Linked DNA regions of Homo sapiens: region 2 is linked to region 1. Evidence: fine-mapped expression QTL. A gene starts in region 1. The other region holds a variant in brackets. All regions are shown on one strand. Distances are from middle to middle.

Evidence for each region. PIP is the estimated chance that this variant, and not a neighbour inherited with it, causes the effect.
Region 2: its variant is fine-mapped to the expression of ZNF195 in fibroblasts (GTEx, PIP 0.97).

What each region holds. Positions count from the first base shown.
Region 1 is chr11:3,377,554-3,380,460 of GRCh38, forward strand. ZNF195 (zinc finger protein 195) reads right to left here and starts at 1,593. Exons shown (of 6, transcript NM_001130520.3): 1 at 1,485-1,593. The coding sequence starts at 1,487. RefSeq lists enhancers at 1,294-1,857, 1,546-1,840 and a silencer at 1,299-1,368.
Region 2 is chr11:3,412,517-3,415,423 of GRCh38, forward strand. It overlaps the pseudogene FAM86GP. Among named protein-coding and RNA genes, the nearest start is that of ZNF195, 35 kb to the left of the region's middle. The variant C/T (reference allele first, on the strand shown) is at 1,255.

The DNA.
Region 1 (2,907 bases):
ATGTGTCTCCAGGGATTGAAAGTTGGGTTGGGTGAAGACAATCTTAATGTCCTAAGTGGTTACCTCTTTAGAGGAAGAGTAGACCAGGAGATTTCTCTCAGCCCAGGGCATCCAGCTGCTCCCTGGAGAGGCCACACTTCATACCTCAGGCTGTCCTCTGAGAAATAACCCAGGGCCTGAAATTCACTAGATGCTCCAGCAGACATGGCCATGGTGGGCATCCTGTGTTATCCCTGGACAATACTGAAACTGAGGAAAAAGTCCAGAGGGTGGCTGAGAGCAAATCACCCTGTCAAGTTTCCAAAGTGGAACCTCAAACCAAAGACATTCTGGTAAGGTGTCTGTGCCTAGGGAAAATAAAAAGGAGGAGAGGCACAAAGACTTTTTACAATAGCGTCAGGGGATGATTCTCTGCTTTCCTGTCACGTGGAATGATTACAAACAGAAAACAAATCTCTTAAAAAGTGCCGTCCAGGCTGGGCGCAGTGGCTCACGACTGTAATCCCAGCACTTTGGGAGGCCAAGGCAGGCGGATCACATGAGGTCAGGAGTTCAAGACCAGCCTGGCCAACATGGTGAAACCCCGTCTCTACTAAAAATACAAAAATTAGCCGGGCGTGGTGGTGCAGGACTGTAATCTCAGCTACTCGGGAGGCTGAGGCAGGAGAATTGATTGAACCCGGGAGGCAGAGGTTGCAGTGAGCCGAGATCGCGCCACTGCACTCCAGCCTGGGGGACAGAGCGAGACTCCATCTCAAAAATAATAATAATTAAATAGCAGGCAATCCGACTGAGGTGGCTCTAGTGCCCTGGGTTCTTAGGTTAAAAAAAAAAATCTAACTCAGATGCGTTTCTTGCAAATGACTATCTTGCAGAAACAAAATTCAGGCTTCGTCAACCACAAACCTCTAATTAACTTCTGATTACAGGACCAGAAAATTTCAGCCTAGATAGCTGAAATCAGGAGATGACGTAACTGTACCGAACTAATGAATGAATGTGGTTTGCTTCCTCATGCACCTGATAAAAGCCTTTCCTTCAAGGCCGGCTGGTGGGACCTCCAAACCCAAAAAACATGGTTGGGTCCTCTGCCATTCATGAATCGCTCTTTGCTCAAATAAAACTCTTTCACATTTTTGCAAGGACTCCCTCGAGAGAAAGGAGGGACTGGGGCCCCCACGGGCTACAGATCATCCTCTTATGCACAAACCACCCACGGAGTCGGGATTCTCCCTTCCTGACTCGGGGAGACGAGGGTCTGCGGGCGAAGAGCTGCCGGGGGGACATGGCTCTGGGCTTGGGCCAAAGCCGCTCTGCAGGGATGCGCCGGGGCGCGCGGGGCCCGGCCGCCATGGTGCAGCTGGAGGGGCCTCGGGTCCGCGGAGCCCGGAACCCACCCGGGCAGCCCGGTTCCTCCCGAGCCGGTACCGCGGGTTCCAGTCCGCCCCTCCCTGTCTCTCAGGAGGCCTGGCCCCTACACTCACCATCTCCTGGCCTCCAGAGAGCCTGGCGTTTCACTTCTGGATCTCCCGGTGCCTGCGGGTCACACGACCTACGGCTAGCAGGGGACACAGAGCCGCGGGGACAGGAAGTGGAGCTCTGTCGGGACAAAGGCCCCGCTAGATCCCGGAAGCCGTCCTCTCCTCTCCAGACATGTGCCTGATTGGACAGTCCCCGCCCCTACTCCTCTGATTGGATAGGGCATCACGCCCCGCCCCCTCAGGCCCTGAGTGACAGGAGCTGTAATCAGACAATGGGCCGAATGAGACAGCAAGGACAGGTGCTGGCCGCGATCTTTTGGAGCGGGGCTTCCTGCCTGCGCTGTCCGGCCCCACCTAGAGGATATTTACATTTCATCTTGTGACTGCGGTTATGTTTATTTATAAATAATAAATATATGTTATTCACCAATGGAAAGAAGAAAATAAAGACAATCATTTTGAATTTTTATATTTTATGGCCTTCCTGGCTTTTGGTCCTTTGAACAGACAGCCTGAAATTTCAAAAAGGATTCAAGCCTCTAAGAATTAAAATGTAAGCCATGTGTGAATCTTAAATTTTCTAGTAGCCACGTTTTAAAATGTACTAAGAAACAGGTGAAGTTGATTGTAATAATTTAACCCAGTATGTAACCATTTTCCTCTATGGTCAATATACAATTGGTAAGGAAGTATATATTTTGGGGTACTAAATCTTTGAAGCTCACTCTGTATTTTACCTTTTCAGCACATTTCAGTTCAGACCAGCTGTATTCCTGTTATTCAATAGCCACACATGATCAATAGCTGCCACACTAAAGTGCAGCTCTGAGGTCTAACCTCCCTTATGTCAGGAAGTGGAGGGTCTGAAAGTCCCTTTTCAGCCAGAGGTGAGGGAACAGCCTCTTGCTACAAACATCTCTCCTCCGGTCGAAGGGTGGACGAGATGGTGATCCTAGAGAGCATAGGGGAAAGCAAAAGAAAATATCCACGGGTAGAGGACTGCTGCCCATCAATAATGGGGCCCTAAGAGGAGAGAACACATCTTCAGATCTGTCCATAGCCTTGACCTCCAACATTTAGATATGGAGGAAATAGACTAGAGGCAGACTTATCTTGCTATTTGGCCTTAGCCCTAATGATCAAGCTGTGATTGTCTGTTTCTTCCCGTGGTTGGGGGGCTGTGTGAGTAAAAGCACCAATCACATATATACATGTGTACATGCATTTCTGTATGACGGAACATTATCTTACAAAAGATCCAACTTTAAATAAGGGGGGAGAATTAGTACCTATAAAGTGCTTTCTTCTTGCAGGTAACTAGGAATCAACCTTTCATTGAATCCTGGCACCCTATCTGCCCTGGGTGCATGTATTAGTTAGCTATTGCATAACAAATCACCGAAAACTTAATAGCTCATGATTGAGT
Region 2 (2,907 bases), 35 kb after region 1:
CACTCCAGCCTGGGCAATACAAAGCCAGACTGTCTCCAAAAAAAAAAAAAAAAAAAAAAAAAAAAAAGGTGGGTGGGGGCTTATACTATGTGTTCTGCTTGGCACTGTTTTTTTCACTTCAAAGATATTGCAGTTATTTTTTCACATAAGTATCTGAAGAAAGACTTCCTTTTTTTTTTTTTTTTTTTGCCTTTTTGAGACAGGGTCTTGCTCTGTTGCCCAGGCTAGAGTGCAGTGGTGAGATCAGGGCTCACTGCAGCCTCCACCTCCTGGGCTCAAGCTATCCTCCCACCTCAGCCTCCCGAGTAGCTGGGACTACAGGTGTGCGCAACCATGCCCGGCTAGTTTCTGAATGTTTTGTGGAGATGGGGTCCCACTATGTTGCCCAGGTTGGTCTTGAAATCGTGGTGTCAAGAAGTCCCCCTGCCTTAGCCTCCTAAAGTGCTGGGTTGACAGGCCTGAGCCCCGCGCCCGGCCAGCCTCCTGTGCGAGGTTGTGCAGGACTTTGTCGTGGAACCCAGTATGCCTTCGTGTGCTGGCTTGTTTGTTGGCTCTGTAGTTAACGCGCTGCCCCACGTGGACAGGCATTGGACCCACGTCTCTGTGTGCAGGCAGAGGCTGCTGCGCGTGCATCTGTGCACATGGCTGCCAGGAGGGGCTGTGCTCAGGGTGATCTGGGGCAAAGGCTGGTGGCAATGGGGGGCTTGGGTGTAGTGTGGAGGCACGAGAGCCAGGTGGCCGAGCTGCAGTCTGTGGGAGCTCAGGGGTTGCTTGGCCTCTGTGTGTCCTAGTGTCTTTGTCGGTGAGATGGGACAATGATAGCACACTCTCACAGGTGCTGGGGGCTGACAAATGTCAGGTCTGAGGACAGTGGCTGGCCCACTACGGGGACAATTCCCCTTCTCTATAGTCACCCTGCTCGTCTTCCATCAACTGGGTGCTCAGGACAGTGGCGTGGTGGATCCGCCTGTACAGCCTGTGCTCCAGCGTCCTGCAGGCCACAGCTGTGTCCAGCCCTGACCCCGACTGCCCCTCCCACCACCTCCATTTTATAGATGAGGAAACCGACGCCCAAGGGCTTAGGGAACCCTGCTCTGAAGCACACAGTAGGGCTGCTGGGCTCAGATCCTCCCTCCCTGTGCTGAGCTGCCCTCCTCCTGCCGCAAGCTCCCACGCCCCAGGCCCACCCTGCTCACCGGCCTCTGCCCTAGTTCCCCGCATGGTGTGGGAGTGTGGGGCATCCTAGCTTTTCCT[C/T]GGCCCCCAGTTCTTTCACTTCCACTGGAGTCCCGCAGGGACAGCTCGGGGACCATGCAGGCCCGGGTGGGCGTGTGGGCTCACATAGCTCGGTGGTGAACAGCTGGCACGTCTCTGGGTTGCGGACGATAAGGGCCACGTAGACTTGAGGAGCCCGCTGGTGCTCCCGGTAGGCAGCCAGCCTCCGCAGGACCGCGACCAGCGACACGATGGATTCTGGGCAATACAGCACGTCTACGGTGAAAGCTTCAGGTTACTGAAAGGGACCAGCGGACAGTTCCAGGTCATGCTGACCTCAGCAGCAGGGCGAGGCCAGAGAGGCAGCAGTCATATGAGACTAGTAGATGCCATTTGACCATTTGGGCCATTAGATGGAAAGGCAATTGCTTGGGTGAAAAAGGAGAACCCTTAGTAGAGAAAGCTGCAAAAGACCGAAGCAAAAGAAAAAAATCTCCAGACTCACTGGTGTTCCTTAAAAAATGAGCTCTGGTTCTCGGCCTATCTAGAGGGCTGTGAATGACACAAAGCCTGACCCTGCCATGAACTTCGTGTTTCAGGTGTCTGCCGATTTGTCTGCTGGCTTGCAGGGGTGGGCCTGTGTCCCTGGCCACCGCTGGACCTGTGGGTTTCAGGGCTGGGACCCAGGACCACAGGCAGAGCTCTGTTCAACCAGAGAGGAGACCGAGTGTGCTGGCAGGGGCGAGGGGTTTTCGGTGGCCCAGCCAAACACCACCTTCTCTCAAGGGCCCTGTCCTCATCCCAGAAGTGGTTGTTTTCCTCCTGTGGTCTCTGAAAGACAGAGGCATGGCTCTGGGACAGAGCCATGTGGTGATGACTGTAATGGGAGTATGCCTGTCTCCAACAAGAGGGCTGTGGCTGGAAGGTCACCTTAAGAGGCACCCCTGTCCTTTGATGTCACCCTGGAGGCCCAGAGTAACTCTTCTGGAAGCCCCATCATGTCCATGCCCGACAGCGTCCATTGTTCCCTTTTCCCAGAGCCCAGAGCTGGGTAGAGCTGCAAGGACACCGCCTGCACAGAGTGCCCGGGGCTGGGCATTGCCTGCTGCAATGACAACATCTGGCTGGATGGCAGAGAGCTGATGGACCGTCGCGACGTCCCAGTCCAGCTGGGCCACTGTCACCCTGGGGCTGTCTAAGTTGGCAGAGATGTCTGCCTCTAATGAGAGGCCATTGAGAAGGACATTCCCTCGGAGCTTCTCGAGGACCTGGCTGTGACAGTCGCTGAAGATGTATGCCTGGAGGCGGCACATCTTGCAGATGGCCAGGCCTGTGAGGCTGGCGCCACTGCCAAGCTCTAGGACAGTCCTGGCGGGAGGAAAGGGGACCATGTCTGTAACTGCACCAGGGTGAGCCTGCCTCGGTGTCCTGCCGTGCGCCCCGAGGTCACCTATGAGAGAAGGCTGCCGGGTTCTCGATGGCCCATTCTGCCAGGTAGAGGGCAGCATCTCATGTGACCAGGCCTGTGATGCCATGGGAGATGATGGCTGTGCTCTCGGAGAGTGTGACTGAGCCTCCCGAGGGCTGCACCAAGAGAGGGCGAGAGAGTCAGTCCAGCAATCAGAAGGCAAGTGGCTTAGAAGACAAGTAGCCATCCACCACATGGCTGAATAAACCATGACAGGACCAATCGCC